6 separate regions of the Homo sapiens genome follow, and all the other regions are reported to be linked to region 6. The links are microRNA targets in miRTarBase. Many come from high-throughput screens and were not tested one by one. Region 6 holds a microRNA gene; each other region holds the end of a gene's coding sequence.
What was found. The annotated mature microRNA hsa-miR-98-5p reads UGAGGUAGUAAGUUGUAUUGUU and lies in region 6 at 1,604-1,625, opposite strand. An mRNA with a match to its seed (bases 2 to 7 or 8) in the 3' UTR can be bound and repressed. Matches are read on the target gene's strand: a 7mer-m8 pairs with bases 2 to 8, a 7mer-A1 pairs with bases 2 to 7 and ends in A, and an 8mer does both.

Region 1: miRTarBase lists BRI3BP as a target of hsa-miR-98-5p. Seed matches in the 3' UTR shown: 8mer at 2,421-2,428.
Region 2: miRTarBase lists TEAD4 as a target of hsa-miR-98-5p. The part of its 3' UTR that is shown has no 7-base or 8-base seed match.
Region 3: miRTarBase lists ARIH1 as a target of hsa-miR-98-5p. Seed matches in the 3' UTR shown: 7mer-m8 at 4,620-4,626.
Region 4: miRTarBase lists MRPS2 as a target of hsa-miR-98-5p. The part of its 3' UTR that is shown has no 7-base or 8-base seed match.
Region 5: the mRNA of TRAM2 is a reported target of hsa-miR-98-5p. Seed matches in the 3' UTR shown: 7mer-A1 at 4,908-4,914.

The regions. Positions count from the first base shown.
Region 1 is chr12:125,025,059-125,030,225 of GRCh38, reverse strand. It overlaps BRI3BP (BRI3 binding protein), which reads right to left. Exons shown (of 3, transcript NM_080626.6): 3 at 1-5,167. The coding sequence ends at 4,796. THRIL (TNF and HNRNPL related immunoregulatory long non-coding RNA) reads left to right here and starts at 2,803. Exons shown (of 1, transcript NR_110375.1): 1 at 2,803-4,783.
Region 2 is chr12:3,040,043-3,045,189 of GRCh38, forward strand. TEAD4 (TEA domain transcription factor 4) reads left to right here. Exons shown (of 13, transcript NM_003213.4): 12 at 65-217; 13 at 323-634. The coding sequence ends at 436. Among named protein-coding and RNA genes, the nearest start is that of TSPAN9, 35 kb to the right of the region's middle.
Region 3 is chr15:72,582,612-72,587,778 of GRCh38, forward strand. ARIH1 (ariadne RBR E3 ubiquitin protein ligase 1) reads left to right here. Exons shown (of 14, transcript NM_005744.5): 14 at 597-5,167. The coding sequence ends at 681. MIR630 (microRNA 630) reads left to right here and starts at 4,606; the gene lies at 4,606-4,702.
Region 4 is chr9:135,503,296-135,508,462 of GRCh38, reverse strand. It overlaps MRPS2 (mitochondrial ribosomal protein S2), which reads right to left. Exons shown (of 4, transcript NM_016034.5): 4 at 3,792-4,921. The coding sequence ends at 4,330. It overlaps LOC101928525 (a long non-coding RNA gene), which reads left to right and starts at 2,016. Exons shown (of 3, transcript NR_121579.1): 1 at 2,016-2,619; 2 at 4,144-4,227; 3 at 4,762-5,167. RefSeq lists an enhancer at 2,124-3,097 and a silencer at 4,126-4,280.
Region 5 is chr6:52,498,537-52,503,703 of GRCh38, reverse strand. It overlaps TRAM2 (translocation associated membrane protein 2), which reads left to right. Exons shown (of 11, transcript NM_012288.4): 11 at 434-5,167. The coding sequence ends at 507. Among named protein-coding and RNA genes, the nearest start is that of TRAM2, 76 kb to the left of the region's middle. RefSeq lists an enhancer at 4,556-4,605.
Region 6 is chrX:53,554,696-53,559,695 of GRCh38, forward strand. It overlaps MIR98 (microRNA 98), which reads right to left and starts at 1,646; the gene lies at 1,528-1,646. HUWE1 (HECT, UBA and WWE domain containing E3 ubiquitin protein ligase 1) reads right to left here. Exons shown (of 84, transcript NM_031407.7): 57 at 4,659-4,837; 58 at 4,276-4,365; 59 at 3,960-4,114; 60 at 2,687-2,732; 61 at 1-225. It overlaps MIRLET7F2 (microRNA let-7f-2), which reads right to left and starts at 2,579; the gene lies at 2,497-2,579.

The DNA of each region.
Region 1 (5,167 bases), not on the chromosome of region 6:
TTTGGTTAAGTCAGCCAGTTCGGAAACCCATCAGGGAGAAGTTATCAGGTGTCAACTTGTAAGGCAGATGACATTCATCAAAAGCATCTTAAGAAGTAGCAGTGATCACAGAAAGGAAGCAATTCAGGATTTCCACTAGCAACAAATTGCATTAACCATGTCTAGGCCATTTGACAGCTGTTATTCTTAACGCTCCATAAGCCTGAATCACAGGGCCAGATGAGCGACTAAGCTGCTCACATCCTCTCTACAAGGCAGCCCTCCCGGGCATGCACAAAGTCATATTATAGTCTTCCTAATCACTGACCCAAACCTTTGCGTTCTTACTCAGCTCCCCAGAGGGGACCACCCCACTTGGTTACCACCATCACAGTCATAAAGACATAGTCCCAGTTCCCTGACATCGCTGCCTCCCGACTCCTGCATGAGACAGGCTCTCATTTCTGGGGTAAGTGTATGAAACACCTTTCAACGGCATTCACTTACCCTTTGTGAATTAAGACACAGGCACGATTCACAAGGTCTGCTTCCCAGAAATTCTATTGCTGTGCTCTGTTACCAGAAATGATATGGGGGCTGAAATCCAAAGCAAAAGAAACCAAAGGGCGGGTAATGCCGACTGGTATTGGAAAGTGTGTGTGTGTGTATATATATATACATATATATACACACACACACACTTTTTTTTTTTTTTGAGACTGGGTCTCACTCTGTCGCCTCAACTGGAGTACAGTGGTGTGATCTCAGTTCACTGCAACCTCTGCCTCCCAGGTTCATACAATTCTCCCACCTCAGCCTCCTGAGTAGCTGGGACTACAGGAACCCACCACCACACCTGGCTATTTTTTTTTTTTTTTTTTTTTTTGTATTTTTTGGTAGAGACGGGATTTCACTATGTTGGCCAGGCTGGTCTCGAACTCCCGACCGCAAGTGATCCACCCGCCTTGGCCTCCCAAAGTGCTGGGATTACAAGCTTGAGCCACTGCACCCAGCCTGGAAAGTATATTTATGAAAGGTTTGCACTCCACAAAAGCATCTTTGCTAGGGTGTCAAGGAAGAGATCACTAAACCAACCCCAACACATCCATACAATTCCAGCAATCTAGAGAGGGCTGGTCCTTTTCCTTTTCTGGATTATTTTCTGTTCTCAGTAAAACAAGTATTTACTGTGATACTGAAACACTGGGAAATTAACACTGATTAAGATATTTTAAACACTGAGTCTTAATTATAACAGAACCAGTTTTCATCAGAATGCTTTTACGTCACATTCAGTGAAGTGTTACGCTAATATATTCTACAGCCCTGAAGATAGAAAAAAGGTTTCTCTCCAGGTATGAGATATGGTACAAAAATACATTTTTCCACATACAAAAGAGAGAAAAAAACAAAGACATGTGGCGGGTGGCGAGGGGAGGCCCAATCCCAACACCCTACAAGGTTCCATGGAATGGAGAAGGAACAAAAAAATCCCCAATTATTTTGGGGTAAGATGTGCCCCAGAAAAGGTGAAATCTATGCAATAAAACCCAGGTTTTCTTCAAATCTAGCATCTAGGATTTCTATCAGAGTTTCAAATAATCAGAATTTCTATCAGAATTTCTACCCTGAGGTGACACCTACTAACTGTAGGTTCTTTCATTAAAAATGAAGACATCTTTCACCAGAATGTATCAAGCTATAAAACTGGCTTCAGAGCCTACACTTAGCCAGAGTGGAAAAAAAAAATAGTGCATATTTTCGACAGCAATTTTGAATTGATGCTTGAGGTCTCAATCCACCAGCACCCAGATATCATGTTACCTCCCTCAGTTGAATACAAGTTAAAATGATGATCTTATCGAGATCTCAATAGAGCACAGTGCCCTTCATGTTTCGGGTAAGAGGGTGGGAGGAGGAATGAAGCGGGTATTACACCCAGCCCAGTGACAGCTTAAGCCTTAACATGCGGGCATCTTACAATGACCATAAACAAGGGAGGGGCCAAGGCAGGGCTGGCGATCATTAGCTTTGCGCACAGAATGCCATGTTTTCCCCTGGCCAACATAAGCAAAGCTGTTTTAGTACCTAAACGTGGTATAGCCAAATGCACAAAAGGAAAGAAGATAGAGATGACCTCCCGAGTTATTTATACCTTGTGCTAAAATAGATTCATCTACAAGTATCTAAATGACAAAACTAGAATGATTTCAACCCAGTAATCCTGTGTTCCAATGTGCATGGATAAAGATTTGATCTAGGCCCAGCGCGGTGGCTCACGCCTGTAATCCCAGCACTTTGGGAGGCCGAGGCGGGCGGATCACGAGGTCAGGAGATCGAGACCATCCTGGCTAACACGGTGAAACCCCGTCTCTACTAAAAATATAAAAAATTAGCCGGGCATGATGGTGGGCGCCTGTAGTCCCGGCTACTTGGGAGGCTGAGGTAGGAGAATGGCGTGAACCCAGGAGGCGGAGCTTGCAGTGAGCCGAGATGGTGCCACTGCACTCCAGCCTGGTTGACAGTGAGACTCCATCTCAAAAAAAAAAAGATTCGATCCAGCAAATAATTTTTTTTGAGACGGAGTCTCACTCTGTTGCTGAGGCTAGAGTGTGGTGGTATGATCTCAGCTGACTGCAACCTCCGCCTCCCATGTTCAAGCGATTCTCCAGCCTCAGCCTCCCAAGTAGCTGGGATCACAGGCGCCCACCACCAGGCCTGGCTAATTTTTGTATTTTTAGTAGAGACGGGGTTTCACTCTGTTGGCCGGGCTGGTCTCAAACTCCTGACCTCAGGTGATCCACCTGCCTTGGCCTCCCAAAGTGTTGGGATTATAGGGGTGAGCCACCCTGCCCAGCCTGCTCCAGCAAATCTTAAATATCCATGCACACTGAATAAACATGCACCTGAAACAGGTGCACGTTTCAGGAAGTGAATGGAACTCTCCAGGAGAGTTTGGGTCCCATCATGTGTACCTTAGAAACAGAAGTCTCAAAAGTCTCAACAACATCCACAAAAACATCTGCATCTGTTTTCCAGATACTTGCAACCAAAAATAAAACTTCACAGGAACACTACACAAGAAGTGGTAGACAGCTAAATCTTCTCCAAACTGAGACCTGGACCATAAGGTCTTGGTTGTAGCAGGTCTGGCAGGGGTTATCTATAAACCTGCACGCAGGGCACTGTGAGCGGGTTGCCAGGGTACATCTGTGGCCAGGTAAGGGCCACAGAGACAGTCGTGATCCCCAGCAGCTTCAAAGCTGCAAAATGCTGGGCTTTTTTTTTTTTTTTTAAGATGAAGTCTTGCTCTGTTGCCTAGGCTGGAGTGCAGTGGCGTGATCTCGGCTCACCGCAACCTCCACCTCCCAGGTTCAAGCAATTCTCCTGCCTCAGCCTCCTGAGTAGCTGGACTACAGGCACCCACCACCATGCCTGACTAATTTTTGTATTTTTAGTAGAGACGGGGGTTTCACCATGTTGGCCAGGCTGGTCTTGAACTCCTGACCTCAGGTGATCCATACTCCTCGGCCTCCCAAAGCGCTGGGATTACAGGCATCAGCCACTGCGCCTGGCCTAGGGCTTTCTTTTTTAAAAAACAAGTCCTAACAAAAGGGGGTTTCTACCAGCCCCTGAGCCACACCTTCTGAAACTCCCTTGCCCAGGATCCCCACAGCTGTCCACCTCGCAAGTCCCACTCTCTGCCCACAGAGACTGCCTAAAAGGAGGACACAACAGATTTCAGATAAAAAGCACCTGTGTATCGTAAATATTTCAGGAAAAAGAATTCAGATCTTTTCAAAGGCTTGCTTATTGCTGCTAATTGTTCCTGAGGATCTTTCTAAGCAGCAATATACTTGAGAATATTAGCTGCTACTGTTTGTTTTCCCTCTAAGGTCCTGAGGAAATCAAAAGAAAAAAAAAAAAACCCTCAAGGGTATAGCTTTTGTATATAGCCCTAGTGAGCAAACTGCAAATTGGGACATGCAGTAGATTCTGGAGCAATCTCCAATCCTTACCAGGTACTTCCTGGCATCAAATCCCCAGGACATTTCTTGGCCCCTCCTTGCATTTTCCGTTTCAAAATGTTGAGGTTAAAATACATCGAAGCACAGAGGGAAGAAAATCTCAGGTCTTCTAGAAATGGCGATGTCTTCATTTAAAAATAGGACTGATGGGGGCTTGGCAGGGGTCTCTAGGATCCAAAAGAGGTTGAGTTGCATCCTGCAGCCCAACTGTCCACATTTAGAAGTGACAACATTCATGAACTAAGTCAACATCCACCAAAAATAACATGAAATAAAGCTCACAGTTTGGGAACATGAAAATAACGCACACAGACCTCACCCACCAATCCCTAAGCTGTGAAAACAAACGCTCGCATTTAAACTTTTCTCAAATGTCAAATTAGCATATTCTTCCCCTCCATGTAAAGTTTTAATAAACTTGACTCAATCTGCCTTTATTAAAAAACCTTACAAAAGATGTATTTAAATGCTTGAAAAAATTAACTTTATGCTCTATGCACAGATAAATTTCTCTTACTGTACAACTAAATATGGTTATATCCTTTGTTTAAAAAATATTTTTTCCCCCACTAATTACACTTCGTGTGTAGTTCCACGTCAATGATCTTTCCGCTCTTCTGGGAATGTGTCCTAAGAGCTGCCGGGTGGGTGGAAATAGCCCTACACAGCGCCACTTTCTTGCTCAGTCGTGTTTATTAAGATTGTTTGGGGTTTGGGGTTTTTTTCCTCCGTTTTCGTTTTCTGAGACAGCGTGCTGGTAACTGTGGACCCGCCCGGCCGGCTGACCTTCACTTGTCCTTGGAGCGGTCCAGGCTCTCGAGCACCCGGTTGAGACGGATGTTGAGCAGTCTGACCTGCTTCTCCAGGTGCTCCAGCTTCTCCTCCACGCTGGGGTTGCTGGGGTTGCTGGGGCCGCTGGGACTGCTTCGCCAGTAGAAGCCCATGGGCCCGGTCATGAAGTAGACGGCCACCACGAAGCACAGCGGCAGCACCGCGTTCTCCGGCTCGCCCTCGTACTTGTGCAGGATGTACACGCAGGACATGGAAAACAGGACGACCCGCACGATCCAGAAGAAGCGGCCGAACACCACGTGCAGGACGCTGAAAGTGAAGCCCAGGGTCAGGGACAAGAACCAGTAGGCCAGGAGGACGACGCCGAC
Region 2 (5,147 bases), not on the chromosome of region 6:
TTGGGTCTGGGCTGGAGGTGGTCAGAATGGGATTCTAAGCCCCTGCTCTCCCCGGGTCCTGCAGACAGAGTATGCTCGCTATGAGAATGGACACTACTCTTACCGCATCCACCGGTCCCCGCTCTGTGAGTACATGATCAACTTCATCCACAAGCTCAAGCACCTCCCTGAGAAGTACATGATGAACAGCGTGCTGGAGAACTTCACCATCCTGCAGGTGTGCGGCGGGTGCTGCGGGTGTGGCTGGAGTCTGTGTGTGGGTAGCAGCCATGGCATGCCCCTTCTGGGGCCTTATTAACCCTTGTCTTTTTCTCTCCCACAGGTGGTCACCAACAGAGACACACAGGAGACCTTGCTGTGCATTGCCTATGTCTTTGAGGTGTCAGCCAGTGAGCACGGGGCTCAGCACCACATCTACAGGCTGGTGAAAGAATGAGAGACTCGGGGAGCAGGGAGGGGGGAAGAGACGTGTGTGCAGGAAACGGGGACGTGGGGAGGGGACCTGCAGGGGCAGCCCCCTGAAGTGCCAAGAGAGCTGAGAGGAGCAGTTGTGACTCTACCCAGGAACAAACTGTGCCTGAACCTGAGGTGCCCAACCCCAAATAAACCCAAGATGCTGTGTATTTTCAGAGGACCTGGTCTGGCTGTGTGAGCCTCGGGAGGGACTGGGGGAGCAAGGGGGCCGTCTGGGAGGCAGGCCGGAAGCAGTGCTCAGAGACGTACCCCGGGCAGTTCTGAAGCCAGCGTCCCAATGGACTCAGCCAGGAACATCGCCGGACCCTGGAACTGAAGATGTGACAGTCCCTGTGCTACCTCTCAAGCCCCTGCACTGTGGTGCTGGCCACGCCGTGAGGCCCGATGAATGCATGGGCCACGCACCCACAGCCACGTGCGCCCCTGCTGCACTCCCAGGACGGTTCACACAGAGAGGCCCCATCCCCTGGGGGGTGGGTTTTAGGTGTGGCGGTGACAGTTGTTGGACGGGGACACTGTCAGAACTCTCTGGATAGTTTCCGTCCATCTCAATGGATGTGGATTCCATGACCATCTTCCGTGACCACGTTGGGGGCACTGGTTTCAAATCAAAGGACCCTGAAGCGGGGAGGGCAGGAGGCGGCAGGGCTGAGGCCGGCCTGAGGAGTCTCGGCGGGAGGTTGGGTGCACCAGTGTCCTCTTGGCTGTGGCCAGGAGGTTGATGAGAGGTCTCTGGTGCTCCGCTGGTCCCCGAGAGCCATTGGTGCTTGTGAGGCTTGTTCAAACTCTGTCCCAGCCAGGGTGCCTGTTAGGTGGAGGCCTCCTCAGAGCCAGCCTGCACCATCTAACTTCTTCCCTGAGGGGTAGTTTCTGTGCTCCCCGGGGGTGGAGGAGGGGAGTGGACCCCACCCTGAGCCTAGACTTAGATATGCAGCTGAAGGGGTTCCTGGGTTTATTTCTCCTGAGAACTGGCATGGGCTCTGAGTTTTGCCATTCCTGGCTTCGGTCCTAGCATTCTAAGCTGCCTGACCTTGGGCATTTGTCAACCTGTCTGAACCTTAGTATCCTTTCCTCTCTGTAGAGTGGGAAGAGATGGAGTCTGTGAAGCGCCTGGTGCAAGCTGTACTAATACACCTAACAATGAGCTCCTCCCTCCCTGCCTCCTTGCCTCCCTGCCTCCCTCCCTCCCATGGGGAGGCCAGAATCTGGCTGCTTGCTGCCACCTAGTGGCTCTTTGGGGTCATCTTCCCTCATAGGAACCACAGATCCAGTAGCCTAGAGCAGAAAGGGAAGGAAGATTCAACCTAGGGGTGTTTATGTTTACCGTGTGTCTGGCACTCGTGGAGATAGTGCATGGGACTACATAAGTAAGACAGCATCGAAGAGGTGTCTTGGAGTGTGGTTAGGAGCGAGGGCTCTGGAGTCAGACAAGCTACAGACTAGCTGAGTGACCTTGGGGCAAGTTATTTCATTTCACTGTGCCTCAGTTTCCCCATCTGTAAAATTTGTATAACGATAACCTACCTCGCGTATCTACAGTGCCTAGCATAGTGCCCCACATAAATGTGTTCACTAAATGTACGTCGTTATTAATCATAGGAGCTTGCAGTCTCACTAGGGCCGACTGGAAAACTATTAAGTGATCCTCAAAGCCACAGGCGCTCAGAGACTGGAGAGATCAAGGTGCAGAAGACTCAGGGAAGGGTAGTCTTGAGGGCAGCTGCCCTTAAAGGGTGGGCAGCATTTAGTGAAGCAGATGGAGGGAAGTTGACCGGCATCCCAGATGTGGGGAAGAGGCCAGCAGCCTAGTCTCCTCCACGGCCCAGCCCCCACTGTCTTACCAAAGAACAGCTTTAACCAAACCCCTCTGGGCATCAGGACCACCGCTACACCTCTTGCCAGGCTGCAGAGCTATGCAGTCTGGAGGCCCAGCTCTCGTCAGAAGCTGGGGCATGGGCTCTAGGGGAACCTGGGGTCGGATGAGCCCCTGAGCAGGTGGCAGGTGCCTACATGTCCCAGTGTGGGTTCGTGTTTGTGTAAGGCTCTCCTGCCCCCACCCCCAGGCACCAGCACAGCCTTTGCCTTCACTCTCTCCCCTCCCCTGTCCCTGGGGGATTGAATAAGGGAAGCTGGGGTTGGCCGTCCTTCTAGCTTGATTGGCAGCACCAGCGCTGTGACGGAAGGATGTGTTGTGCCAGCAGCCTCTTGGCCGCAGGACAAATGCACATTTAAAGAGATAACCTTTTTGTGTCCTGGCTGGGAAAGAGGTCAGTGCAGATGTTTTTGGGTCCAGGTGTTGGCTGTGAGTTTTCCTTTCCTCTATGAACTGACCTCAGCAGCCTAGTGGACAGTCACCTCCTTACAGGTGTAAAATCCAAGCCAGTCAACCATAGCAGGTGGCAGACTTAGCTGCCTTCCCTGTGGTGTGGTGCAGACCATGACCCTTGAGGCAAATGGGTGAGCTGGCCCCACCTCGCCTGCAGCCTCCTCTGAGGCTCCCCTGCTGCCTCCCCACTAGCCGCCCTGAATCACCTACTTCCCAGCACCCCCAGCCCGTGGTTCTCATCCCGTCTTCCATCTGTGATCTGGCACTCATTCTTCCAGAGCCAAAGAGGAATCCCCTCTTCTCATGCAGAAGACAGTCATGCCTGCCCTTGTGTGTCAAAAGCATTGCATTTATGCCCTGTTAGAACCCCTGTCACAAGCATGGTGCCTGAACACAGGTGCCTCTGTGGTCTCTTCTCATCCTCACCCAATGGGTACTATGCTAGCCCCATTTTACAGATGAGGCAAACGTGGCACGGAGAGCTCCACTAACTTGCCTGGATGATTCATGCATCCATCCATTCACTTAGCAAATACTTATTTAACTTCTGCTTTGTGCTAGCTAGTGGGGATGTGGCAGTGGGGATGTGGCAGTGGGGATGTGGCAGTGGGGATGTGGCAGTGGGAATGTGGCAGTGGGGATGTGGCAGTGAGGAAGACGACAGACAGGCTCCTTGGGAAGCAGAGTAAGCAAGTGAGGAGACAGGCGGGCGTGGTGAGGCTGCGCAGGCGCTGAGATCGAGTTGCTGGGGGAGGCCTCTCTGAGGTGGTGGGGCTTGAGTTGATTCTGAAGGACAAGAAGAGCCAGCCCTGGGGGTCTGGGGGAATGGTATTCCAAGTGGAGGGAACAGCAGGTGCTGGGGGCAGGGAGGTGACAGATGTGTCCCAGGTACAGAGAACAGAGTGAACAGGAGAGAGGAGGGGGCCAGGGCATTCCAGGTGGGGAAAGGCAGCAGGTGGCCCGGTGGTACCACCTCTTTTGGCGAGGGCTTTGGACCTTACCCGGTGTGATGGGAAGTCCTGGAAGTGTGTTAAGCAGGGGAGTCTTTTTGATCAGATTTTCTAGAAAACGACAGTGGGCTGCTGTGGACCTCAGAGAGGCATGTGTGATAGTGTGTTTCGGGCTCTTCCCACGAAACTCGGCTCTGCACAGTGAGACCTCATTTCCTGGTTCTGTTTGATGAGTGAGCGAATGCACATGGCAGGCGGTCATGTCCCTTGGGCCTGTGAGGTGAGGAAGGGTCCCTGAGCCCTGTGGGGATAGAGACTCTTCCACCATTCTGACATGATCCGAGTTAGCAGGCAGCACTGTCCAGATGGAAATGGGGATGGGAGACAGACCATCTCTCTCAGCGGGTCCAGCCATGAGCCAGCAGACTGTTTCCCATTGGCCCCCATCTTTCAGAGTGGGATGATCTTTCTAACAAAGAAACCCACACAGGAATTTGGTGTGTGTGTGCGTGTGTGTATTACCTTTCAGGATGGAAGCCGGTGGGGTGTGGAGCGAGGGGCTGGCATGGTTGGCCTCGCCCAGCTCCTGTACCCTGTGTGTGCCTAGAGCATGCACCTGCTCCCTCTGCTGGGCTGAGACTCAGAGGACACTGGGCAGGTGGTGGGGGGTAGGAGGGTCGTGGCTGTGTTGGGTGGGGCCACATCAGGTGTGTGGCACAGAGGGGGAGGGGGAGGGGGAGTGGCAGTGTGTTCCACCCAGCAGTCCCTGTGTTTGACCTCTTCGTACACTCTCTGTTGTATTAGCTCTCAGAATGAAAACGAGATACTTTTCCCCAATCTATGTACGTTGTTCTTAAGAATGTACACTTGGCCAGGTGCAGTGGCTCACGCCTGTAATCCCAGCACTTTGGGAGGCCAATGTGGGTGGATCACCTGAGGTCAGGAGTTCAAGACCAGCCTGGCCAACATGGCGAAACCCCATCTCTACTAAAAATACAAAAATCACCTGGGTGTGGTGGTGGGCACCTGTAATCCCAGCTACTAGGGAGACTGAGGCAGGAGAATTGCTTGAACCCAGGAGGTGGAGGTTGCAGTGAGCCGAGACCGCGCCACTGCACTCCAGCCTGGGCAACAAGAACGAAACTCTGTCTCCCAAAGAAAAAAAAAAAAAAAAAAGAACTTAAAGTTAAGCCAGGCCAGTGATTGAATTGACCTCTTACAAGTCATGTGATCTTGGACAGACACCCTCTAGGGAACTTCATAATCTCATTTGTGAAATGGGAATAAATGCTCCGACTTGGGACTGCCACTGGGAGGAGGACAGGTCATGGTGTGTGAAGGAGCAGGGCCACCCCTCGCTCACGGCGAGCTCAGGGAATGTGAAATGTGGGTGTGTA
Region 3 (5,167 bases), not on the chromosome of region 6:
AAGGAGATACTTGTCCTAGGAGTCGATTTTTCAAGATGTGCCGCCTCTTAAGCTAGAGATGCAAAATGTTTTATTTCTCAACATGAAGCTCTTTCTCCCAAAGTGACAAATGCTAGTGTCTTTTGAAAGTTGTAGGAAACTTGGGGAGTTTGGAAGACTTGGAGATTTAGTCCTAACCAATATCTTCCCTTCCCTTAGCCAATTTTAGCTACCATATTTTGTTTACAGTACTTTTACAGTTGACAGAGATTTTAAGGACGTGAATAAAGAACCCATGAAATTATTTCTGAACCTGTTTATCTGCAGAACTGTGGGATTGAATTATGATTTCTAAGGTCCATCAGAACTTGTAACACTTTATTGCTTTAAAATTAATTCCCATGGAATCATGGCTTTCAGAAAATACCATTTTAATATTAGAAGCAGTTTGATGTGTCTGTACATCTAGACCTGAACATGTGCCTATTAAAATAAAAAATAGGTGCTTGGTTCCGAGTCTGGATAAACTATAGGGATGCCTTAAAAATAAGTAAATGCCTCTTTTTTTATTATTAGAGGCTGACAACAAGTTTTTTTTTTTTTCTCTTTGATTACAGATACTGTGAGAGTCGACGAAGGGTTTTGTTACAGCATGTGCATGAAGGCTATGAAAAAGATCTGTGGGAGTACATTGAGGACTGAGAATGGCCCTGCATAAAATGAACTCTGAAAACTTTACCATCTAGAGTGCTCATGCAATTAAAACAAAACAAACACAAACAAGGAGGCACTAAGCCTATTCTGACACCACTGGTCTGTAGTACCAGAATTGTTTTGTTAATGGAAAGTTTAAGTAAATTATATTGTAATAAAAAGGTAGATAAACCATTGTACAACAGTATTCTAGGCCACCAACAAAAGTGTGACAGACACACTAAAAGCCCTCCAACTTTAACTTGTAACGTAGCTTCATTCTCAAAGCTGACTCCTTTTTTTTCTTTTTCCTTTTCCTGAGTGTAGTACAGTTAAAATTTCAAACAGCTCCTTGACACTGCTTTTCATGTTCAAACCAGCCATTTTGTTGTACTTTGGTAAAGGACCTCTTCCCCTTCCTCCCCTACACATACAGATACACCCACACACAGACTGACTCTCTTTCTCTCATACCCCAAGGTCATGAGTGAATGATGCTTAGTTCCTTGTAAAGAAAATCTTGGGATGGGGAAAGGGGTAGGCAGCAAGAGGATTCAACAAACGAAAAACATAAAAACTTTGTATATGACTTTTAAAACAAGAGGACAACACAGTATTTTTCAAAATTGTATATAGCGCATATGCATGGACAAAGCAAGCGTGGCACGTGTTTGCATAATGTTTAATTACAAAAAAATATTTATTCTTTAAAAATCTTCAAGATTATGTCTATTTGCTGTGCATTTTCTTTCAGTTTGCTTATCTTTCCCGGGTTGGGGTTGGGATAAAGGTGTGTCGGTTTAGCACCTCTGGAAGACCTATCTAGAGCTCTTTCACTTTCCTGAGGTTATTTTGCCCTTTCTGGTGTTGGTATGTCTGTTGCCGGCCATGGGCCTCATGCCTTGAATTCCTGCTCTTGATCAGGGACAAGGGAGGTCAAGCTCTGACTAATGCCATGACCTGATTAAGGGGTACAGCAGGGAGTTTTGTTGCTACAGCTCATGAATTAACCTGTCCCAACCTAATCCCCCTCCATGGCATCATGCCTCTACCCAAGCCTTTGTGTGCCCATGTTATGCACACAGCTGTAGGCATTCTTAAGTCCCCTGTCGCATCCAGTGGAAGCATTTTAAAATTTCTTTTACTTTTTGGTTTTCCCTTAATTGCTGCTTTTCAGATTTTAGTTATGGCTCGTCTGCTCACCCCTTCTCTACATTAGGGTGTCAAAGAGAATGTTTTGCTTTAAATATAAATAGCCATTCATTTAGTCTCAGATTGTGAATTTAAAATGGTGGATACCGAAATTGCTTGTGTGTGTTGCTGTGGGTTTGGTTTGAAGGCAAACACCCCTAGAACATGATATTCCCATCTAGTGCATTTAAATAGAAATCACTGAGTTTGCTGCTTTTTTATTGTCAGCAGATAGGAGAATTAATAATGCATTTTAGCTGTGATGTCCATTTTTATGAAATTCCTACTAAGAGCTATGTTAAAAGTAAAGGATGGTGGTGGTTGTATTAACTATATACCTGTTTAGGCCATTCTGGCTGTGGTATTTTTCAATAGGTCAGCATCTGTAAATCTGTCAGTTTTATACAGGAGTGCAGAGTGAACTAGGCAACTAGATTAAGAGGTCTAAATATGAAATACCAGTTGAGGCTGAGGACCTCTTCGTCTTCCTTTAAATGTCTTTTGCCTAGGGAGTGTTTACCATTTGTGAGGCAGCTTTGTCTGCTCTTACACTGTACATCCTATTACTCCATTGGGAAGTAGGTTCACTTTCCTCTGGCCTTTTGCCTAAGTTAGGCTTTGCTGAATCAACCCTACTTTTCCTTTTAGAAAAGGTTGTTACAGGAGATTTACTGGCAACTGTTCTTTTCCCATCAAAAATCAGTGAATGTTTGCTGAGTATAAATGCTGCTTCCTTAAACCACTTGTCGCTTTAGGATCAACTTTACCTGTACCTTTTCTCCTTTCCTCCCTTGCCACCTCAGGTGCAAATCTGAACTCAGTGTCTGCTTCTTCCATTTTCTCGTCTCTCTCCCCTCTTCCCCCATTATCCATATGACATTATTTTACTTCAAATGACAGCATCAATCTTAAAAAGATATACATTAAAACTAAGGAGTTTTTTTAAAGAAAGCCTGAATAAGTTCCTTTCCCTGGTAACTTTGAAAAGCAGTCAGAGTTGCTATATAGATATATGTGGCTCCTTTAAAATGCTTTGTGTATGTGTGGTGTTTAAAAAAAAAAAATCTTACCAGTTAACTTTGCAGTGTCTAGGTTTGAGTGTCATAAATCCACGTGTTCCTGTTGCAACAAATACCCAAAAATTGTGTGTGCACTTCCTAATACCAGTCTTCACCCATGGAGGAACAGTGCTTTTTAGAGATGCTTTCTATTTCAATGTTGGCATACTGCCTGAGGGTATTGCAGTTGTGGGTGCATTCCCTAATTTGTATGATCAAGATGAACTGGCCCTTTTCTACTTCCAAGCTTTTAACAGATACCACCATATTTGACAGAATTCCCAGAGTGAATTGCTTGTGTTATTAGTAGATTCAGTGCCCCCAGCTGGGATAGGCAAGCCATGACAGCTTCCCTGTTTCACCTACAGAAGTCTTATCTGAGGGATCTATTCACAGTAAGCACCAAGGTCTCCATGTCTTGAGGTCAGTTTCATTGTCTTTTGAAAAGTGCATGCTTCATTTGAACAATTCATTCAGCAGCAGATGGACTTTCAGTGATTTAAAATAAAATTTTGATCCAAAGCTCAGGACACAAACCACAGTGGTAAAATTGAGTAGCATATAATATCAGACTAAATTATCTGTAATTTTCCACAACCCAGATTGTATGTGTTTTATGTGTGTTTAAATAAATATGTTAGATACACGTGTATACATACACCCATATACAACAGATCCAAGACTGGCTGACTTCATTTGAAATGGTTGAATCTGCTGTGTAATAAAGTGGTTCAACCATGATTAGGAACTGAAATTTAGTAGAAGAGGGAAAAGGAGTTAATGTAACAAATTATTTTAGCTACAAACCCCGGTAATAGAGCACTTGGGGGATGGGATGGGGTGGGTTGGTGAGACAATCAGAATGGTAAATTGATTAAATGCTCCTAACCCTGTAATTTTGTGCATAGAGCACCCTATGCTGTGGAAATAACTGTTCTTAGATTTCATTGTAACTGGACTGTTCAGGTTGCCCAGAGGGAAAGAACATTCCTAATTCTAATAAAATAAACTTTTATTTTGTTATTCCATTAGTTACTTATGTTTATTTTTATAGTTAAAAAATGACTAAAGGTGGCTAATAGCCACCCGTATTATGTGCCTTATTCACTGTTCCCACTTAATATAAAATGTCAAAAATTGGTTGTTTCTTTGCAGGGAACTGTGAATGAGCCCATTCCCCCAACATTTAACTTGGTTAATGAAGCTTTCAGAGCATTTTCTGAAAGATTTCCAATTTCTGCATCTCAGATATTGAATTTAAATTGTTTGTGTTGTAACAGTGATACAAAAATGTTCAATAGCTCTTTGAATGCCACTTTTTTTAAAGAAAATACTTTAAAAGTCATTCTTAGCTAACCTCAAAACTCCTTTACATTACTTTCATTTTAGCTCACTCTTAAAGCTGATACTGTTATATAGGGATGAAGGGAGAGTTTTCTTAAAGAAGGTCCCAAAGTTGAAGATCGTTTGTCATTGATACTCTGGCCAAGTCCAGGTTTTAGGACAATTTAATTTACTCTTATTTGGATCTGTAATTATGGGAGTTTATCACTTTTCCTCTTCAAAGCACTTCAACTTACTGTCTAAAACAAGTGGAGAAGAAATTGCCATTTTTTATAAAGGAGGAAGATAAGGCTCACTGAGGTTAAATAACTCCCTCAATTTTTCATTTCCTTCTACCTGAAACTTAACATCATGCTACCTCTTTGTATCATATTTTGTTATTCTGGTCACAGAATGACCTAGTATTCTGTACCAGGGAAGGTAGTTCTTAACTATATTGTACTTTTAAACCACATTAAAGACTATTATAAATGCCTATCACTGCTACTGTTAGAGGTTGCTCTATACTATCTCTGATCTTTCATTTGTTGCAGTTTGCAACACAGTAGTTGAGAATAAGTGGTTTAGTATGATTTGCTTAATAGTACCCAAGTAATTTGCAGTTGTTGGTTTAGTTATTCAAATGAATTTCCATTGTAAAGAATTTTGGATAGTCTGCAGGAAATTGTTACAGGATGCACAGAACATCCCATATCCATTGGATCTCAGCCTTTGAGGCTTTAAAAAGATGATAAGCAGTGAGTTTTATGAGAAAATTTTGGCTCCTTCAGAAACAGGAAGATAAGTGGGCCCCTCAGATTTTTCATATATCTTTGGGGATAAAGTTGGTTATATCTGGTTTATTTTAGGGATTTTGCTTCTGTAGTTACCCAAGATCAAATAGCCAACTCAGAAATACTCAG
Region 4 (5,167 bases), not on the chromosome of region 6:
GGGTTTGCTCAAGGCCACTCACCGGCTTCCCACCTCCAGGCCTACCTTCCCAGGTCCTCCCTCAGGCTTCCTGGGATCAGCTGCAGCAAACAACATGTCCCCGAATCCCTGTCTGCTTTCAGAGACCCAAACTCTGCCAAGGTTCCACACTGGCTGTGACTGGAGCAGATGTCTCCACCTTCTGGATACGAGTGTCCTCATCTGTAAGATTTTCCTTGTGCTAAATCATGGAAATCTTTCAAGAAAATCCGGGCTTTAAACACTTTCAATAGAACAAAAGTCGTCCTAAACATTTGCCTCTGTGCCTCTCCACATTCTGTTCCTTATTTCCACACTGTTTAATCAGTGCGTACACGCTGTTGTGGGTTCAGGGAGGTCCGGGAGGGCAGCTTCATGTTTGTTGATTGAATGAGCCCCAACCAGCTCCTTCCCAGATATCTGAGTGGCCCTTGGGCTCTTCAGCCCTCCCCAGAGGGTCCTGCTCTGCTATACCTAGGATGGGAACCTCCCACATGGAATCTGGAATGTTCTCTACAGGTGGGAAAACTGCTTTGCACATACAAGTGAGGCCTAGGGCAGACAGCTTCCCCATGGAGGGGAGAGGAAAATCATAAATAAGAACACTACAGCCCGGGCAGCCCATTCCCCAGGGCCAGGCGTGAGCAGAGCGCTTTCCACGGCCCGTCCCACCCAGGCTTGACAGCAGCCTCACGAGGTCCCCTTAGCTCCCAGTTCTCACACAAACCAACCGAGGCTCAGAGGGGTGAAGGGGCATTGCCAAGACCCACAGTTGGTGGGTGTGGGAGCGAGGAGCCCCTGTGCGGTGGAGCGGGACACGCTCGCCTGTGGAACAGCAGGTCCAGCATCTGTGGGGTGGGGGCAAAGCTTCCACACGTGCCCAGGAAAGCAGGAACGAGGAACGGTCGCTGCTCTGCCCCCAGGTGACGCTCTAGCTTCTCTGTGCAGCCTGCGTGGGGACTCCCACCCTGCAGGTCTCATCCAGGAACAGGGCTGACTCATTTTCACTCTGGGGTGAGCCAAAGGGAGGACGGCCCAAACATATGAACATGAACAAAATGCAGTCGCTCATCGCCATCATGTGAATTGGAGAAGTTCAGGAAGAATTTCTGGGCTATTCCTTCCTATAGGAATATGAAAAGTCACTTTGCACCTGGCCAAGCTGGGGCTGGACGGTGGTGGGGTGAGGGCGGGAGGAGGCCTAGGGTGCTGGGATTGGGACTTGGGGGCTGCTGGAGAGGCAGAACTCTAGCAGGACCCTGGGAGCCACCTGGTGACATCTGGGCAGGAGGCCTTCCCAGCCATCCAGGGGCCCTGGTTGTGGAGACCTCCCCTGCACACTTGCACCCCCAGCCAGCACTGGCCCTTGTTGGTGTCGAGGAGTCCCTGTCCCTCACTTGGGGAGAGAGTGGGGGTCGCCCCCTTGGCCAGTCTCCTGCGTGGAGCTCTGCAGAGACAGCGACCTAGGAACATCAGAGCCCGGCCCGGCCCTTGTCACTTCTGCCCACCTGACCTTCTGCTCTCCGGATCAGGCACAGAGCCGTGTCTGTGTAGACCTCCAGCCAGGATGACATGAGATCCATCTCAAGGGCTGGGGCCCACATCAGCAGAGGCCCACATCAGCAGAGGGCCCACATCAGCAGAGGGCCCACATCAGCAGAGGGCCCACATCAGTAGCTGGCCCAGCTGGCCTCAATCCTCATGGGCCGCTAGGCTCCTGCCCCAACACCCTGCTCTTGCCCAGGGCAGGCTCTCCCCTCTTGTCCCCTCCCCCCACACACCCAGGGAGGGTTGCGGGGGATCAGAGCGGAAGCCTGGCCTGTGCTGACCTCAGGGCTGCCCTGAGCTCCTCCAGGCAAATAGGGATCTTCCGGGCCTCAGGAGTGGGAGTGGCCCAGCCTCGGCAGGGCTGGAAAGGCTCCTTGGCCCTCCCCACCCCACCCTGCCCTGAGCCAGCTCTGCCAGGCCCATCCTCTGGTGGCTGCCTCTGGTCTTCCCCACCATCTGGGACACCAGCTGGTCCAGGCACAGCCTTGCCACAGTCCAGAGAAGGCCACCTCTAATGGGGCCTGCAGGCATTGTGGCCACAGGAGGAAAGGGCCGGGGGGCCCCTCTCCCCACTCCTGGGGCAGCTCCCTTGCCCTTCCCCAGCCTCAGGCACTCTCATCATCTCCGTTGGCCTCTTCTGGGGGCTCTTGGGGTTCATCTCCAGGGTGGAAAACTTGGAGGGCCCCTCCTGGCAGAGTCAAGGATGGGGTCAGCGAGACCCCATCCCCTCAGCCCTCAACCTTTGTTTCACCCAGAGCCCCTCTGAATCCTGGGAGCTGGCTCTTTCCACTCCCCGAGGGGGCCCTCAGGCCCACCCTGGCTGTCCCAGCATGGCCCCCGCGGCTTCTGCGCTGCACCCTTCCCGTCCCTCCCTGCTCCTCATGGTCACTAGTGCCTGCTTATCCACTGGGTCATCCCCTCGGCCAGGGCCCCTCCTGCCCTGGAAGCCCAGCAAGCGCCCACTCGTAGCTCCTCAGCGGGTCCTCGCCGGCCTGTGCCAGGTGCAGGGGCCAGTGGGAGGACAACAGGAGCCACGCAGGCCATCAGCGCAAGGTAAGGGGGACCGGTCGGGACCCAGGGAGCCTGCCCGGGCCTGCCAGCCCCCACCATTCTTACAAGGCGCCTTGGGTTAGCCACAGCTCTGCCTGGGCTGCTCCCCTCCACCCGGCCTCAAAATTAATGACCCCAGAAGAGACCGCCCCGTCCCTCCTGTAGGCTTGTGCCCCACTGTGTCTCCTGAGGTCCAACCCCTGGAGCTGCCTGCAACGTCCTCACTAATGGCTTAGCAGAGAAGGGCCAGGCCTGGACCCAAGCTACAAAGGCCTCTCCCAGGGAAGGATCAGTCGCAGCTCCAGGGGCACCTCCTGGAAGCCCCCCAGTCAGTCCCCAGTGTTTGGTACTCCTGTCTCATCTCCAGGGTCCTGGCTCCCCGCAGCTGGCCTCCCCAGCATGGTGGGACAGGAGACCCAGCTCAGAGTGTCTCACCTGCCCACCCTGAGAGGGATTCTAGGGGGAGCCTTGGAGGGGCCCTCACTTCACCTGCCTTTATACACGTGCATCTTCAGACTTCGGCTTTGCAAATTAAAGCCATGCTGGCCAGAGACCAACCTGAAGCTCAGCTCCCTGTCCCGACCAGATCACAAACCTGTGACAAACCTGGGGACACCTACCATGAACCCCTCACCAGCCTAACCCTGAAGGGACAGGGATAGGCGCTGGACTCCAGCCTCCCATTGCCCTGTGCCGCTCCTGCAGGGCAGGCCTCACCCTACCCAGGGCACCAGACTCCACAGGGCCCTGCTGCCCAGACTCTGCCCAGAGACGGCTCCTTGGGTGGTCAGGTGCATGGGGGGCCTATGTCCTAAGCAGCTCGGGATGGGGCTGGGAGGAGGCCGCAGCTTGTTCCAGGAACACAGCTGTATCCCCACAGGTGAGGGATGTTAAGCGTCCCTGTCAGCAAGTGCCCGTCTTTCCTGAAACTGGGTCCACACCAAGCCTGTTCTGCTGAATGAGGCTGGCCGGGCTGTGGGCTTGTCACGAGCTCCACTGCTGAAGACGGTGCCCTCTAGTGGCAGCTGGCACCTCTGCTGACCTCATTCATGCGCCTCACACACACAGTGCCCGTCCCATCTCTCATCACTGGGGTCCCAGTGTGTGCCTGAAGAAAAACCACACCACATGGATGAAAGCAAACCCACTCGAGACAGAGCCCCAAACTCCAAGTCTCATTTTGCCCAAATCTGAGTTTTATTTTTGCTGGAATCAGGTCATCTGGCCTGGCTGTCCCACCAACCCAGCTGGGAGCCTCTGAGTGGCCTGCCAGCAGCATCTCATTACAAAACAGCCCCCTGGAACCAGGTAGCCAAGGAAGCGGCCCACCTGAAAGGCATTTAGATTGAGAAGAAAAACTGCACCTTCCTGACAAAGGTCAGGGGTCACGGTGAAGGGAGGGCTGCTGGGATCACAGGGACAGCAGCATCTTCTAGCAGCTTGGCCATACCAGCCACTGAGGTCCTAACTGCAGCCAAGGGGCCGTTCTGCACATGTCGCTCACCCTCTGTGCTCTGTTCCCCACAGAGCAAACGCACATGGCAACGTTGGTCCGCTCAGCCACTGGTTCTGTGGTGGAACGGTGGATGTCTGCACTGTGACATCAGCTGAGTAAGTAACAACGACTGAGGATGCCGCTGACCCAGGGCTGGGGAAGGGGACTCCCAGCTCAGACAGGCTTGGCTGTGGTTTGCTTTGGGAGGAGAGTGAACATCACAGGGAATGGCTCATGTCAGCCCCAGGAGGGTGGGCTGGCCCCTGGTCCCCGGGCTCCTTCTGGCCCTGCAGGCGATAGAGAGCCTCAACCTGCTGCCGCTTCTCCTTGGCCCGGGTGATGGCCGTCTGGAAGAGCCTGCAGTAGAGGTGCACAGCCAGCGGAGAGTCGTCATTGCCGGGTACAGGGTAGGTGATGAGGCAGGGGTTGCAGTTGGTGTCCACGATGCCCACTGTGGGGATGTTCATCTTGGCTGCGTCTCTCACGGCCACGTGTGGCTCAAAGATGTTGTTGAGCGTGTGCAGGAAGATGATGAGGTCCGGCAGGCGGACCGTGGGGCCAAAGAGGAGGCGCGCGTTGGTCAGCATGCCGCCCCTGAAGTAGCGAGTGTGGGCGTACTCGCCACAGTCACGGGCCATGTTCTCAATCAGGTACGAGAACTGCCGGTTGCGGCTTATAAACAAGATGATGCCCTTGCGGTAGGCCATGTGGGCGGTGAAGTTCAAGGCCAGCTGGAGGTGCGTGGCTGTCTGTTCCAGGTCGATGATGTCGTGGTCCAGGCGGCTCCCAAAGATGTACGGCTCCATAAACCTGCCAGAGACCCCACCAAGGCAAGGGGGATGAGAGTTCACGGGGCCATCTCCACTGGCTCCTTGCAGGAACACAGACGCCCACCAGGGACTCCCGGGCTCCTCTGTGGGGGCACTATGGGCTGGGAAGCACAATTTGCAACGCTCCCCGTGTGCATGGACAGCAGTGCAGACCCATCCAGGCCACCCCTCTGCATGCCTCGTCTCGTGGCTTAACCCCTCCTACCCTCTACCTCTTCCCGAAGGA
Region 5 (5,167 bases), not on the chromosome of region 6:
TGGGAGTTCTTGCTGAACTGGAAGTGGGCTGATGCCTTGCAGGGGCCTGAGAAGAACTGAGGACAGTGAGCAGTGACAGCATCTAAGTGATTTCGGCGAGTATCTAGCCCCAGCCTCAGGCTTGGGCAGGCTGGCCTCTGTTGTTGCTGAGTTACTGTGTGTCATCCCAGGCCCCTCCTGCTAAAGTGCAGTCAGAGACCAAGCCTCTCAAACAGGGCCACTAGTCCAGGGCCCTGGGGAAGACAGGACCCTCCTGGGAGCCGTCTGCTGGCTTGCATTTGCTGTGCAAGGCTGCAGCCTGGCGCCCCTTTGGTGCATCCATGTATAGCAGCTGGGCTGCCCGGGCCCCTTCCTTGGCCTGGCCCCACCCTCCCCTCTTCTGCCTTAGCTCCAGCAGAAACACCATGTATGCTTGTCTCTCTCCACTTCCCAGGTTACCATGAAAATGGAGTGGTGAAGGCAGAGAACGGAACCTCCCCACGGACTAAGAAACTCAAGTCTCCCTAAGGCCAAAGTGCTAAGAACAGGAATCCTCTTGGTGGGGGCCGAGCAGGGGGCAAGGAGCCCAGGCCCCCTCCCTGCCTCCTCCTTCCTGCCTGTGATGCTCCGTCTCAAACAGCCGAAACCTGTCTTGCAATGGGGGGAGGGGGCGTTTCGCTTTCCTTCTTCTTGGCTTCCTCTTATTCTTCCACAAACCATTCTCAATAAAGCCAAAAATCTTTCTCTTTCTCCCCCTCAGGCCACCTCCTGTCCTCACTCCTGTCCTGTGCTGGCTTTTCTGGAACGCCAGGCGCCCATGGCTGGCACCTTTCTGCTTGCTCTGTCTCTTGCCTTATGGCTGCTGCTTTTCCTTTTTACTTCCTATTTTCACCTTATCTTGCAATTTTTCTGTCTGATTTTTACAATGGGAGGGGAGCTAAGATTGCAGTCCTGTCCTTCGGTCCCCCAGGGCCTGCCGGTCAGAAGCCTGGGGCTGGTAGGCCCTTGGTGGTCCTCATGTGGATGGGCAAGAAGAGAGCGGCCATCTCGGATCATAATCTCCTTGGTGCTGATTAACTGACGAGATATATGATTCCAGTTCTGCATGTACCATCTTGAGGCACAGCAGCCACTGCTCGTTGTAAATGCCAAGGCATTTGGCTTTGGGACGTGACAACTCAATCCAGAAGGATGGTGTGAACTCGGTTGGGTCCCGTGACTCGAGCTCCTACCAGTGGCTGGCCGCGGATTGGAAGCCAGCCTGCTGTCGCTCTGTGGGGGGGGACACGTCTTCCCACTGCTTAGAGCGAGAGCAGAGCAAACTGCGCAGCAGGCACCTCCAGAAAGGTAATGGTGGCAGAACCCACAGTGGAGTCGACCTAGGCCTTTCTCCAGCAGTCCCAGTCGCCATTGCTTTTTCAGCCATTCACAAGCATTCAAAACCAAACCAAACAGCAGTTCATATACCTGCCTGAGATAGGCTGGTCCTCACCTCCAGAGCCAGCCAGCCCCGTCAGGGGCCAAACTTACTACCTTGACTTCATCTCTAGCTGCAGAAACACTAAGTCTCAAGGGCTTCAGCCCCATGCTGGTCCCTTGGTGTTCAGGGAGGGTCACTTGGACCGCTGTTCATCTGGCCGCCCTTGTTGAGTGTTCTTTGGAATTGTCGTTTTTTGAGCACAACTACAGCATTTTAGACTGCATGAAACCATGACTGACTGAGAGTCACTCTCTGGGTAGATGATAGGCGCCTTTCTGGCCCCTTCCCTCACAGATTCTTTCCCCTCCCCTCCACCTGAAGAGAAGGCCTCCAAGTCCTTTTGGTGCCTTGTGAGGACTTTTAGAAGGGGCGTTCAGCTTTAAAAAGCCGGTCCTAATTACGGCCGGACGCAGTAGCTTACGCCTGTTATCCCAGCACTTTGGGAGGTCGAGGTGGGCAGATCACCTGAGGTTAGGAGTTCAAGACCAGCCTGGCCAACATGGTGAAACCCCATCTCTACTAAAAATACAAAAAATTAGGTGTAGTGGCAGGCACCTGTAATCCCAGCTACTCGGGAGGCTGAGGCAGGAGAATCGCTTGAACCTAGAAGGCGGAGGTTGCAGTGAGCGGAGATTGTACCATGGCACTCCAGCCTGGACAACAAGAGCGAAATTCTGTCTAAAAAAACAAAAGTCCCAATTAAGAACCTCCGAACTCTGTTTTGAGGCAAAGGGGAGTAGTTCTTGGTAGGTGCAGGAATAGTAGTGTCATTTGGAATACTGGTCATCTTTCTGACATCACAGTAGAAACCAAACCTTGGATTTAGATTCAAAAGGGGGGAAATGGGTCTTTTCATCAAGGCAACTCCCCTTCTCCAAGTCACTTACATCATAGATAAATTTTAGCTTCCCAGTAACTGAGGGATTTGTTTCCTAACGCCATTGGAGGCCTTCATCCCTCTCTACGATAAGGTTGCAGAAATGGGAAGAGCTACCCGTGGTTGCTTTTGATTACCCTTAGGAAGTGAGACAGTGTTTTTGAAAATATGTATTTCCCCCATTTCTCCCTCTCCTTCCCTGACACTTCTCTGGGCTGCACAGCAGAAACGTTGGTAAAAGGGCAGTTTGGTTTCAACACAGCAGACCTGATATGGGATCCCTTAGCCACTTTAGTCAAACAGCCCTGACAGAGTCTATAATTGAGTTCAGGCCCCCCACCTTGCCTAATAACTGCAAATCGCATGTTCAGCCAGCAGCCTCCTAAGCCCACCTTCCTCCCCCATTAGAGAACACCCATCCTAGGTGCTCTCCAGGCTGTGTCATTGGCAGGGCTTCACATGCAGGAGGCCTCTCTCAGGTGAGTCCAGGTTAAACTGTTGAGTTGTGGCTTCAACAGATATGTATGGCATGCTGGGATGTGCCAGGTGCCTGCGTTGTGCCAGTTGCTGGAGAGGTAGTGTGAGCAGAGCAGCTGAAATCTTGCCATCAAGCAACCCTCATTCTCATGCCTGTAGGTTTCCATTGCTCTGTCCCAGGACACTTGCGTGCCAGAGACGCCACAACTTCATGTCCCTGTCTCTTGCAAGCTCCCCGTGCTGCCAGTACTTCATGCCTTGGATGTGGTCCCACCAGCCCAGTGGCCGGGGTCAGCTTAGGCTCTGCTTCCCAGTGGACGGGTGTGCTAAGGGTTTATTTTATGTAAAAAAAAAAAAAAAAACAAAAAAAAACCCTGAGACCATGAGTGGGGCTGGCATCTTGCCAGCCTGGGCTTCAGGGATGTTTGGGGGGGGTGGTTAGAGGGTAGTTGTAGGGTACTTTGTCACCCCCCTCCCCCTGCCACCCTCCCTGGCACGTTTATTTCACAGCAGAGCCAAGTCTGTGGCAGGTTGACACAGACTGTGTTGCCAGAGCTGAAATAATTCCACTTCATCCTATGAGCGTGTTGGGCTAGCTTGTTCTAATTTTGGCCACTTTGGCTGTTTTCTTCAGTTTTATGCATTCTCTCCTGCCCCAAAGTGCCAAGCCATTTGTGAAGGCTCTGCCAGACACCTCCAAGCTTGAGAGCTCAGCACCATGCACCAAGAGCAGGAGAAAAGACGTAAACCTACCCCAGCAACTGTGGCCTCTCGACAGCCCTGGCTAACTAACTTACATTTGTGGGGAAGCCAACAGACACAGCAGGAGGAGAGGGAGGTGGCGCTGGTGGACCAAGGATCTGTGCTACCCGCTCCCCTCCTTGGAGGTGCAGTGATGATGGGAGTTATTTTTACCATCCGGGCGCTGATAGCTGCACTATTAATAAATTGCATGTGTTCCTTTTGAAGGTAGGGGATGGTTCTGGGTGAGAGGGGAGCAGGCTGAGCCGGCGGGGGATCTGCTGTCCTCCCTTTTGAGTCAGTTCTAATCCCATGTGTGTCTGGGCCACCAGACCGAAATGGTTGCTGAGAAACTTGTCTGTTCATGTCCCAAGGCATAACTTCCCAACATTTAAGAAACCCCAATAGACACCTCTGCCCTGGCCACGTTCACAGATCCTTCTCTTGACCGGAAACCCTGGGACCCTAAGAACCCCTGAAGCTTGGGGTGGGTGTGTGCTTCTGGGGTCTCTTTTGGGACCTCCTTTGTCAGTACCCCTTCTTTTTTCTAAGCAGCTAATAAGAGGTTGGGTGAAAGAGTGCATCTCCTCCCAGGATTCCACAACAAAATTCTTATCTTCCATGGATGCTTTAATTGGAAGTGGGTTGCCGACCCCCTTGTGCCTAGAAAAGGCCTTCGCTTGGGTTTCCTTTGTATGCTTCAGCCTTCCTAGTTGGTTTTTCTAGGCCTGGTGTGAGAGGTAGGGAAGTCTGCACATAACTAATTCTTTTGCTTAAGGGCCTATGGCACAAGTGCACAAACTTCAATTCTTGATGTTCTAAGCTCTCTCCTCTAACAGAGGGAGTGCTGAAAGCTTTTGAGTCAAGACAATGGAGTGCTCTTCCTCCCTCACTCTGCCTTCCGAGCTTATGGTTCCTTTTCTCAGGAGAGGATTTTCAGGATTATTGGAGGATTAGGTCATTGTCAGATGACTGGAAAACCTAAATAGGATCTCTCTCCAGCTCAAGGTTGTCCCAGTGAGGAAGACTTTACCAACTTCTCACTCTACCCCACTACTCACATGAGTGTTAGCTCCACCTTGCAAAGGCTGAAGACCAGTTCTCCCCAGTGAAAGCTGCCTCATTCTTTTATGGAGTTCCCTGGAGTGGCAGAGCTATAAAGACGAGCATTGGGATTTGCAGTCTCCATGTAGCCTTTCGTGCTTGGCAACCCCTGTAGACTTTTTGTCCCAAGCAGATTGCGTGCGTGCGCCTGTGTGTGAGAATAAGTGCCTTACTTTGCTGTGTGGTTTTCAACTTGTACTCCGTGGCCAGCCCCCAGTTGCCAGGGCTCGACGGCAGCCAAGGACACCATACCTCAGTATAGTTATATATAAAAGGGACACGGATTGTGACAGTTTCACCCCATTTGTTTCTAACCCCGCTGCCCAGGATTAGGGTCTGTGGTGTGTTCTGTTTTGTTTTTGGTTTCTCCCTTGTGTCAGTTCTCTTCTGGCCCAGCTGGGTGGCTGTGGAAGTCTGTGAGGTGGCCCAACCACAAGCATACCTATTAAGAGAAGCCCAGAGCTTCCAGCCCCCACTTCGAAAACTCTCCTCTGGCCCCACATAGCAAA
Region 6 (5,000 bases):
GACCCAATTCCTCTGGCTCTACAGGCATCAATAGCTGTGTAGAGCTGCCCCCTTCTCCAGCTGGAGACTGCAGCTCCTGAGGAACCTCTCCCAAAGCTGGTGGGGTTGGGAGTGTTGGTTGCTGTTGTGAGGATTGCAGAGTGCCAAGGGTCTCCTTGGACTCAGATGTAGCTGCATCAGTTGAAGATGGGGTTGTTGGGTAGCTGTCAGGCATAGGCGTCCCATCTTTCTCGGAAAGAACAATAATAGTGGTTAAGGGGCAACCAGCCAATGATGAGGGGAGCCACCCCAATCAGCAAATGTGGCCTGATAAGTATCCCACCCAGCCAGTGATCATCCCCACAACAAAAATACTCCAAGGAACATCTCTGGTCTGGTATACTAAGGATGAAGGTTAAGGCACAGTGCTATCTCTGTCCCAAGAATGCAAGAACTGGAGCTCTGACTCTGTGGATTCTAAGAATAAAATCCTTTCTGTGCCCTGCAGGTGGAAGGGGGAAGATTTCAGGCCATATAGGGTGAGGCTAAATGTCTCTGACCTATAGGTACACAGAAAATCTAACTACCAAAATCCTATTGATCCTCCCACTTCATCTATTTGGAGCAAGAAATGGTCAGAATTTCGTTCAAAACTCTATTTGTTTTTTTTGGAGACAGGGTCTCACTGTTGCCCAGGCTGGAGTGTAGTGGCACAATCATGGCTCACTGCAGCCTTCACCTCCCGGGCTCAGGTGATCTTCCCACCTCAGCCTCCCAAGTAGCTGAGACTATAGGCATGTGCCACCATACCTGACTAATTTTTTGTATATTTAGTAGAGACAGGGTCTTGCCATGTTGCCCAGGCTGGTCTCAAACTCCTAAGCTCTAGCAATCCACCCACCTCGGCCTCCCAAAGTGCTGGGATTACAGGCGTGAGCCACTGCGTCCAGCCCTTCAAAATCTTTTTTTTTTTTTTTTTTTTCCTGAGACAGAGTCTTGCTCTGTTGCCCAGGCTGGAGTGCAGTGGCGTGTTCTCAGCTCACTGAAGCCTCCACTTCCTGGGTTCAAGCAATTCTCCTGCCTCAGCCTCCTGAGTAGCTGGGACCACAGGCGAGTGTCACCAAGCCTGGCTAATTTTTGTATTTTGAGTAGAGGCGGGGTTTCGCCGTGTTGGCCAGGTTGGTCTCGAACTCCTGACCTCAGGTGATCCACCCGCCTCGGCCTCCCAAAAATGCTGGGATTACAGGCATGAACCACTGCGCCTGGCCCAAAATTCTTAAAGTATGCTTTCCATTCCCTTGCACACATTCCTGTTCTATTACTAATAAAATGCAATCATTACACAGTTGAAGAATAGCAAAATGAGTTCATGCCCAAAGGTAAAATAATTATATGCTCCAATTAATGAAAGACAAGTCACTTTATAATGACATCTGCCTCACCCTAAACACCATCTGTCCCCTTCCATGTCTCTTTTCTTCCAGTCCAAATTATCCAAGGAACATCTACAACTTTGTCTGATGGAGGCAACACTGCTAAGACTAAGTGTGAATATGCCACACACCAGGGAAAGTAGTAAGTTGTATAGTTATCTTCTAATTGGGGCCTAATATCCCTACCCCACAACAATACAACTTACTACCTCACCCTGGCATGAGCAGAATCCTCTAATAAGGGCAGCAGGCAAAAGGCCATTTTACATGGTGACAGACTCTTTTAAAGATCTTTTGCTAGATTAAGGGTACCAAGGCATCTACCCTACTTCACTGCTTTAAAAAATATTGTGCAGGCTTTGGTACAATCATTTTCCAACTCAAGTGCGAAAGGAGACAGGTGTAGGGAGGCAGAAGAATGTTCTGAGGAAATATGGGTGGGGGAGACATATGATATCACATGAACCAACTGATAGAATCACAAAATGGCTACTGACCATTGTTAAGAAGATCAGAGGGAATAGGAAACATACGGCAGTCATACCACTAAGCCCAGAGAGCTACCTTCATGAACAGCACACTATCCAAGACAATGTTCCTAGACTTTTAGATTCCATGGACCAATAAAATTTAATTAAAAAAAGAACAAAAAGTAGAGACTAATGTAGGGGTTGCCAACTTTTAGTTTAGCCATGTAAGAAAAAACATCCAATCAACATCATTTAATAAAAATATTTTGGTACCACAGAATTAGGAATATGATCTCTAAATACAAAAACAGCCTTTTAAATGGAATAAATTCAGCTTTATGAAAAAGGCATTAAAGCTCCTTGATTTTGTTCGTTTCCACAGAGGACTGGCATTTGAGAACCACTGTCATCAGTTATTCTCATGAAGTGCCACACCATGGTGGTCATCAAAGGACCAGCCACTTCAAAGATGTACATGAACATGCTGTTTCAGAGGACAGAGTTGCAGTCAGGAAATGAACAAGACACATGACCTCATTACCCATGCCAGAACAAAGTAGATAATAACCAGAACAAGAACCTGAACAGAGCCAGTCGGAGAAGAAGTGTACCACCGTGGGAAAGACAGTAGACTGTATAGTTATCTCCAAGATGGGGTATGACCCTAAAACTATACAATCTACTACCTCATCCCACAGAGCACCAGTGTCCATCTTCAGCCTATGTGGGCCAGCTACTCGGAACTATCAGGATAAAGAAGCAACCAATTGATTAGTAAGAAGGGAGAAAGGGAAGGAGAGTTACCTGAGAGATTCTGTTCAGTGGAGTCATTTGACTTAGATGCAGTACACTGCAAAAAGAAGGGATAGACCAATGTGGGACTTTGCAAGCACCTAAGATAGAGGTCAACTGTAATAGTCACCATCCTCCACCCAGACCATCTAGGAGTTCAGTGATCTAATGGAGAATGCTTTGGCCATGTGACCAAAGGAAGGTGATCATTTCACTGTGCAAATATATGACCAATTTCTCTATACATACTCAGGTTCAAGAATTGTTTGGGGCTGAGGGGGAAATAAATATGGAAGGAAAGGATAATAAAAACCCCTTAGGGATGGGCACGATCATGATCATTCTAGCAAGAATTTCTTGGTTTCATCTATGTATTTTTTCCCTTCATGGGGCTTATTTTTTATTTTGTCCACTCTAGTCTTTTCAGTCACAGGCTAGGTTCACTTATTTTTCATCCTATATCAAGTTTGAAACAATGTGTGTATTAGGTAAAAAGTTCTATATAAAGATATTTGTTAGATCAACCTTGTTATTTTAACTGAACACTTCACTACCCTTATTTTTAATCTACCTGATTCCTTAACTGCTGAGTAGGGTATACTAAAGTCTTTCACTCTCAAGTCTTATTTCTTTGTATTTCTATCAGTTTTTCCCCCTTTTATATCAAGTGATACACTGTAATGTATAATTCTATCAACATTTACTCAGACATTTAAAAGATCTCTGTCTGAGGTCCCAGAAGTTTCAGAAAAAAGTAGGTAACTTCCTTCTAAACCAAAATTGTATTAGTGATTTTATACATGTGAGCCCTAGAAAAAATGACATGTGGTGATGGGGTTCAGAGTACAAACATTTTCTCTGATCTGACACCTAGGCTGATCTTACTCAAATGACGGAATGGGGTCATCTCGGTAAGATTCCCCACACTGGCAGTTCACCGACAGAAATGGAAGTGGGCGACTAAGAGCATGGACTTAGATAAGGTTTTTCTCCTTGTCTTGATGCTGTCCTTGGCGGTAGAGACTATGCAGTGTGACTGTTGAGTGAGAAGCCATTCTGCTTCTGGCTCCAGTTTTTCCCTTGACACTTGAGAAATCTCCCCTCTAGGTTTGAATTCTTTCCCCTAAAAACCAGGTCAATGTATGGTGAATTTGAAATAAAAAATTTCCCAGGTTCAACGTGAACGTTCTAGGATTCTTCAGTGATTCCTGGTGCCATGTGTATGCCAAAACCACATTACGGCAGACACAGTCAAAGATGAATCCTCCCAGCCCTTGGGAATCACCTGTGCACTCTGATCCCTGTTCTCCTTATCTTCTTTGCCTTTATCAGTTATCTTTGTTTCTTCCTCAGCCAGTTGTTTCCTGCGCTTCTCTCGCCTTTCTTCCAGCTCCTCATCCCTCAGGAATTCCAGGTGATTGACAATGGACACTTTAACCACTGTTTCAAAGAGGCAAAAATCAAAGGCTGCTCTGGTGGGGTCAGGGAGGAAGCCAAGAGGCAGAGCTTGTAGCCACAGAGAACCAGGGAAACAACTCTCCACACGTTTGCCCTAGCTCTGGAAGGCTCACTATTGCCCTGATAACCAAGCTGCCACGCACCTGAAACACAGTCATGCATGCTCTCAGCATCGAGAACTTTGCATTCTTCTGTCCAGCGGGTCAGGGCTGTGGGGATGCTGGACAGGGTTCCTGTAGGGACAGCAAAGGGGAATGAGATTCTTGGCCTTGTCAAGCATTAACTGATCCACCGATCCAAAAATTGCAGTATTTCCCTAAAAGGACCCAAGGTCTATCACAATGTTTAGAACATAACAAGTACCTAGAGACAATAAAGTTTTTGTTGCCCATGGCTAAGTCACTGAGTGGTTCTGGCTCCTATAAAATGGGGGTTTTCTATAGGGCAGACACTGTCTTGCTTTTCCTCAGCAGGGAAAAAGTAGAATCTGACAAATTCTACCCTCCCTTTCACCACACAAACTTGCCTGCTTGGCTGGTAGCTGTGCTCTGATCATGGAAAAAGTCATCCAGCAGCTCATCATCAGAACGGGCGATGATGTGGACGTCATCGTTGCCTACCAGGAGGCGGGCCCGACCCCGGCTTTGTAGGGGAAGGCTGCTGCTCAGCTGAAGGATGTCAGCAGCAGCTGAGGGACCAAGCAACCTGTAGGGTAATGGTGGGTACCATGATCACTGTTAAGTCCAGAGGTGCCCTGCAACCTGTTACCATGAGATCCTCTTCATGCATCCTCTATTAAATGCAGAACATGATTATAAACCTGATGATGTGCACACAAGTCTAAGTTATTTTTCTGAATACCACCCTG